Linked DNA regions of Homo sapiens: region 2 is linked to region 1. The links come from fine-mapping of genetic effects on gene expression. A gene starts in region 1. The other region holds a variant in brackets. All regions are shown on one strand. Distances are between the middles of the regions.

Evidence for each region. PIP is the estimated chance that this variant, and not a neighbour inherited with it, causes the effect.
Region 2: its variant is the best candidate, but not a certain one, in a credible set for the expression of SCLY in nasal epithelium (TOPMed, PIP 0.56).

The regions. Positions count from the first base shown.
Region 1 is chr2:238,059,829-238,062,736 of GRCh38, forward strand. It overlaps SCLY (selenocysteine lyase), which reads left to right and starts at 1,173. Exons shown (of 12, transcript NM_016510.7): 1 at 1,173-1,315. The coding sequence starts at 1,227. All of the region lies in intron 8 of UBE2F-SCLY (UBE2F-SCLY readthrough (NMD candidate)), which reads left to right. RefSeq lists silencers at 583-792, 933-1,382.
Region 2 is chr2:238,084,377-238,087,284 of GRCh38, forward strand. All of the region lies in intron 7 of SCLY (selenocysteine lyase), which reads left to right. The region is part of intron 14 of UBE2F-SCLY (UBE2F-SCLY readthrough (NMD candidate)); the gene reads left to right. Among named protein-coding and RNA genes, the nearest start is that of ESPNL, 15 kb to the right of the region's middle. The variant T/C (reference allele first, on the strand shown) is at 1,659.

The DNA.
Region 1 (2,908 bases):
AAGATGCCTTTCTGTATCTTGGATTCCTCATACATAAATACCTACCAGACTGGGTTAATCATCAAGATTAAATTAGTGAACACACGAAAAATACCTAGAACACTGCCTGGCATAGTTCAAGGCTCAATTAAAGGTAGACACTATTATGCCAAAAAAACAAAAAACAACAAAAAAAGTGACGGTAGGATGGCTTCGTGAGGATTTTTGCTCATTTCTACCACTTTCTCAACTGACTTTTCTTAATGGTTGGCGGGACACCAACCATTGGTGGATGTTTACACTTGTGACTGTCTCACAGACAACTCAACATGTCCAAAGCTAAACCCATCATCTTTCCCCCTCCCGTCTTCCCTCTTACCCAGATAAAGGCACTAACATCTTCCCAGTCACTTGTCTAATCCTTGCTTCCTTCCTGTCCCTCATGCCCCAATTCCTATTTAACGGCCTAAACAGATCTTGAATTAATCTTTCCTGCGTTTCCACGCCCACTTAGAGTCCCTCATCTCTGGCCCTATTTTCTCAATGCCCTCCCATCCTCTACTCCAGATCCCCTCAAGTCCATCCTCGATGCGTGACTCTTAACTTCACGCCATCCAGGTCCCCTATGGAGCCGCTCCGACTAACGGACGCGCAGGTCCAGCGGACCTGCTCATCACTGTCCAGGGTGGCCTGCGGGAGACCCCCGGGGCCCTGGCCCTGCTGCCGCGGCCCCGGCACTTCCCCTCGAGGGTTCGCGGGGAACAAGGCCGCGCGGCCCCGGCTCTCCCGGAGTGCACGGTCCCGCGCTCATGCGGCTAGAGGGAGGCACCCGCAGGACTGCCCAGCCGCCTCTGCTCCTCAGGTCCAGCTCGGGCCCCGCCTGCTCTTACGCCGACTAACCGGCCGCGGCCCGATGGCGGCCCTGCCGCAGACAGCAAAGGTCACGGGGCTCCCCCGGAAGTGAAAGTGCGGGGATCCGCCGGCCCAGGAGACGCGGCTTCTAGCGCCCGGTTCCCGGGAAGCTCTGTGACGCGCTAAGCCCCGCCCCCACCCGTCACCTGACCCAGCGCAGCCTCGCCTCCCCGCTGGGGGCTCGGCGGCCCTCTGAAGCGGGTGGATTGGCTGGGGTGCTTCGCTCAGCCAATCCGGACGCGCCCGGGCGTCGCGGCCCCGCCTCCTCCCCGGCGCTCTGGGCCCGTAGCGCTCCGCGGGAAGGAGGCTGGATGCCCGGCAGCAGTGGGGCGGGGATGGAGGCGGCCGTGGCGCCGGGGAGGGATGCGCCGGCACCCGCGGCGAGTCAGCCCAGCGGCTGCGGGAAACACAACTCGCCGGAGAGGTGCGCGCCTTTAGGGCAGGGCTGGGGAGCGGCCGGCGCCTGTCGCCGATTGTCCCGCGCGGGAGGACGAAGGGGGCTCCCGGCCTGTGGCCGCTCTCGCGTGGGGCGTCCCGCGCGGGGATGTCCGCGAGGTCGGCCTAAGTCAGGGATGCGAGCTTCAAGGAGGAGCGGGTGCGAGCTGTGGCCCCGCAAGGGCCCACGGAGAGGTGACTTTGGGGCCGAAACCCGAGTGACTTCCAGGGGTGAGGTTTGCAGGTTCTGGGGAAGCAGAGCCTGCCAGGAAGAGGGCACAGCAGATGCGAAGGGCAGGGGACTTGCCGGAGGTGAACCGGCAGAGCCCCTGAGCCCGGGAAGAACTTTGGGGTTCATTCGGAGCCTTATGGGGCCTCGGAAGTTGATCACGGGGCGATGCAATTTAAGTGTTTTGAAGGAGTCCTTCTGGCTGCTTCCTAGAAAGTAGGGGCGCGGGTAGGCATGGGACGAGAGGAAGCCGGGAAGCCAGTTGGGGATCTTGTAACAACCTAGGAGAGAGATGTGGTGTGCGCCCAGAAACGGATGCGTTGGTAGGAAGCTGGTGCACTGGGGCAGGTGAAAGGGAATCAAGGGTTCTCCCAGACTGCTGGCCCAGCTGCAGGAAACGGGATGGCCACCGCTGAGAAGCGCGGAGACCCGAAGCACGTGGTATCCATACTAGTTAAGTCCGAGAAGAGCAGGAGGCAGGGGTATGCATTTTCTGGTTTGTGTGTCTTCTTTCCAGACCCCTCTTTTTCCTTTTTGTGAGCTCATTCGCTACCCATGCTTAGAATATGAGGGGGTCCAGGCCTAAAGCACACACATTTGGCATTCTACCTTGGTTGGAACAAAGTGAAGGGATCTGGGAAAATATCCCCTAGGGAATCAGTGGAGCGAGATTCCCAAGATTTTTTATTTTTTGGTTATGAAGCTAACAAAGTTGAGCCTGCTCATCCAATACTGATAGCATTTTAAGGAAGCAGCAAATAATGAAGCAAAGGAATGTGTAAAGTATTAATCTGAACAAAATAGATTTGTTCAGCCCAGCAGCAGATTGAAGAGCTACAGTCGCTCAACAAACACTAGCTAGCCTAAGGTACTTTGGATGCTTATTTATAGGAAAGAAAAACAGATATAAGGGCACATGCAAAGTCAAGCCGGGCTGGGGGATTCCTAGGACTATTAATACTAGTACCAGAGTGGTAAAGGATGGCGAGTCAAACTTGTCAAAGCCTTGTACCTATTGAGTGATTTTTTTTTTTTTTTTTAATTGAGATGGAGTCTCACTCTGTCACCCAGGCTGGAGTGCAGTGGTGCAGTCTTGGCTCACTGCAACATCCACTGCCCGGGTTCAAACGATTCTCCTGTCTCAGCCTCCCAAGTAGCTGGGATTACAGGCACGTGCCACCACGTCCAGCTAATTTTATTGTATTTTTAGTAGAGATGGGGTTTCGCCGTGTTGGCCAGGCTGACCTTGAACTCCTGACCTCAGGTGATCTGCCCGCCTTGGCCTCCCAAAGTGCCGGGATTACAGGCGTGAGCCACAGGGCACAGCCTGTTGAGTGATTTTGAACAGAAAAG
Region 2 (2,908 bases), 25 kb after region 1:
GGTCAGGAGTTTGAGAGCAGCCTGGCCGAGATGGTAAAACCTTATCTCTACTAAAAATATAAAAATTAGCCAGGTGTGGTGGCGCATGCCTGTAATCCCAGCTACTTGGGAAGCTGAGGCAGGAGAATTGCTTGAACCCGGGAGGCTGAGGTTGCAGTGATCCGAGATGGCACCACTGCACTTCAGTCTGGGTGACAGAACAAGACTCTGTCTCAAAAAAAAAAAAAAAAAAAAAAAGCCCAGCACGGTGGCTCACTCCTGTAATCCCAGCACTTTGGGAGGCCGAGGCGGGTGGATCACAAGGTCAGGAGATCGAGACCATCCTGGCTAATATGGTGAAACCCCATCTCTACTAAAAGTACGAAAAATTAGCCAGGCGTGGTGGTGTGTTCCTGTAATCCCAGCTACTCGGGAGGCTAAGGCAGGAGAATCATTTGAACCCGGGAGGCGGAGGTTGCACTGAGTCGAGATCGCACCACTGCATTCCAGCCTGGGTGACAGAGAGAGACTCCATCTCAAAAAAAAAAAAAAAAAAGAAACCTAGACTTCTACTTCCACTTGGCAGTGATGGTGGCATACCCCTTCTCCTGCCAGCACAACGTCAGAAAATGGCAGCCCAAACAGAAAGATTGAATAAGATCCAGGTTCTCATAAAGTAAGGCAAAAATGTCCAGGTTTCAAGTGAAAATCATTCATCATACCAAGAACTAGAAAGATTTCAAATTGAATGAACAATAATAATCAATATACGCCTGCACTAAGATGATGATGTTAAAATTATCTAACAAATATTTTACAGCAGACACAGTAAAAATGCTTCAATGAGAAATTGTGAACACCCTTGAAACAAGTGAAACAAAGTGTCAGCAAAGAGAAGGACAACATAAAAGAAGAACCAAATGGAAATTGGAAATTGTAGAACTAAGAACAGCAGCAGCCAAAATATAAAGCTCAGTGGATGGGCTTAATAGAAAAATAAGAGGACAGAGAAAGAAATCTATGAGCTGAAAGACAGAACAATAGAAATCCAGACCACAGAGAAGAAATAGAGTGGGTCTTCGGCTGGGTGCTGTGGCTCACACCTGTAATCCCAGCACTTTGGGAGGCCGAGGTGAGCGGATCACAAGGTCAGGAGATCGAGACCATCCTGGCTAACACGGTGAAACCCCATCTCTACTGAAAAAAAAAAATACACAAAAAATTAGCCGGGCTTGGTGGCACACGCCTATAGTCCCAGCTACCCGGGAGGCTGAGGCAGGAGAATCCCTTGAACCTAGGAGGCAGAGGTTGCAGTGAGCCGAGATCGTGCCACTCCAGCCTGGGCAACAGAGCGGGACTCTGTCTCAAAAAAATAAAAAGAATGGGGTTTAAAATAGAGCTTCAGGGACCTATGAGACGATAACAAATGATATAACATTCGTTTCATTGAAATCCCTGAAACAGAGAAAGATGACAGCCTGAAAAAGTGCTTGAAGAAATAATGGCTAAAAAATTTCCTGAATTTGGCAAGAGACATAAACATACAGAATCAAGAAACTGAGTAAACCCCAAATAGCATAAACGCAAAGAAATCTATGCCAGAGACATATGATTAGACTTCTAAAAATGAAAGACAGAATTCTCTAAAGCAGTCAGAGAAAGATGACACTTCACCAGTA[T/C]GGGAAAAAGAATTTGGATGACTGAATTTCTCATCAGAAACCAGAAAGACCAGAAGAAAGGGACACAATTATTTTTCTTCAAGTGCTCAGAGAAAACCGTCAAGCTAGAATCCTGTACCCAGTGAATATATCTTTCAGGAATGAAGAAGTAATCAAAACATTCTCAGATGAAGAAAAACTAAGAATTTATCACCAAATACAATAGGCTTTCCTTCTTCTTTAGAGTTTTCTGAATTACGTTTGATAGCAGAAGCAAAAATCTTAGCAATATCTGATGTGGTTCAAAATGTACATAAAGGACATATTTAAGATAATTATAGAAAGGCAAAGGTAAAGGAACATAATAGGAGATGAGGTCTGTGCTTCACTGGAACTGGCAAAGTGACAACAACACAGGCTGACACGATGGCTCACACCTATAATCCCCCTGCTTTGGGAGGCCAAGGCAGGAGGATTGCTTGAGGACAGGAGTTCCCAGCCTGGGCAACATAGCAAGATCTCATCTCTAAAAAATTTTTTTTAATTAGCCGACATGGCAGTGCGTGCCTGTAGTCCCAGCTACTCAGGAGGCTGAGGGGGAAGGATCACTCGAGCCCAGAAGTTCGAGGCTGCAGTGAGCTATGATCACACCATTGCACTCCAGCCTGGGCAACAGAGCAAGACCCTGTCTCTTTAAAAAAAAAAAAAAAAAAAAGACAATATTGGCCAGGCACGGTGGCTCACGCCTGTTATCCCAGCACTTTGGGAGGCCAAGGCCGGTGGATCACCTGAGGTCAGGAGTTTGAGACCAGCCTGACCAACATTGAGAAACCCCATCTCTACTAAAAATATAAAATGAGCCGGGTGTGGTGGCGCATGCCTATAATCCCAGCTACTTGGGAGGCTGAGGCAGGAGAATCGCTTGAACCCGGGAGGCAGAGGTTGTGGTGACCCGAGATCGCACCACTGCACGCCAGCCTGGGCAACAAGAGCAAAACTCCGTCTGAAAAAAAAAAAAAAGACAACATTAGCTGGGCGTGGTGGCTCACATTTCTAATCCTAGCACTGTGGGAGGTCAAGGCAGGTAGATTGCTTGAGGCCAGGAGTTCAAGACCAGCCTGAGCAACATGGTGAAATCCTGTTTCTACAAAAAAAAAAAAAAATGGCTGGATGTGGTGGCACGGGCCTGTAGTCTCAGCTATGTGGGAGGCTGAGATAGATGGTAGGATTGCTTGAGCCCAGGACAGACCTCTAGCAAGACTGACCAAAAA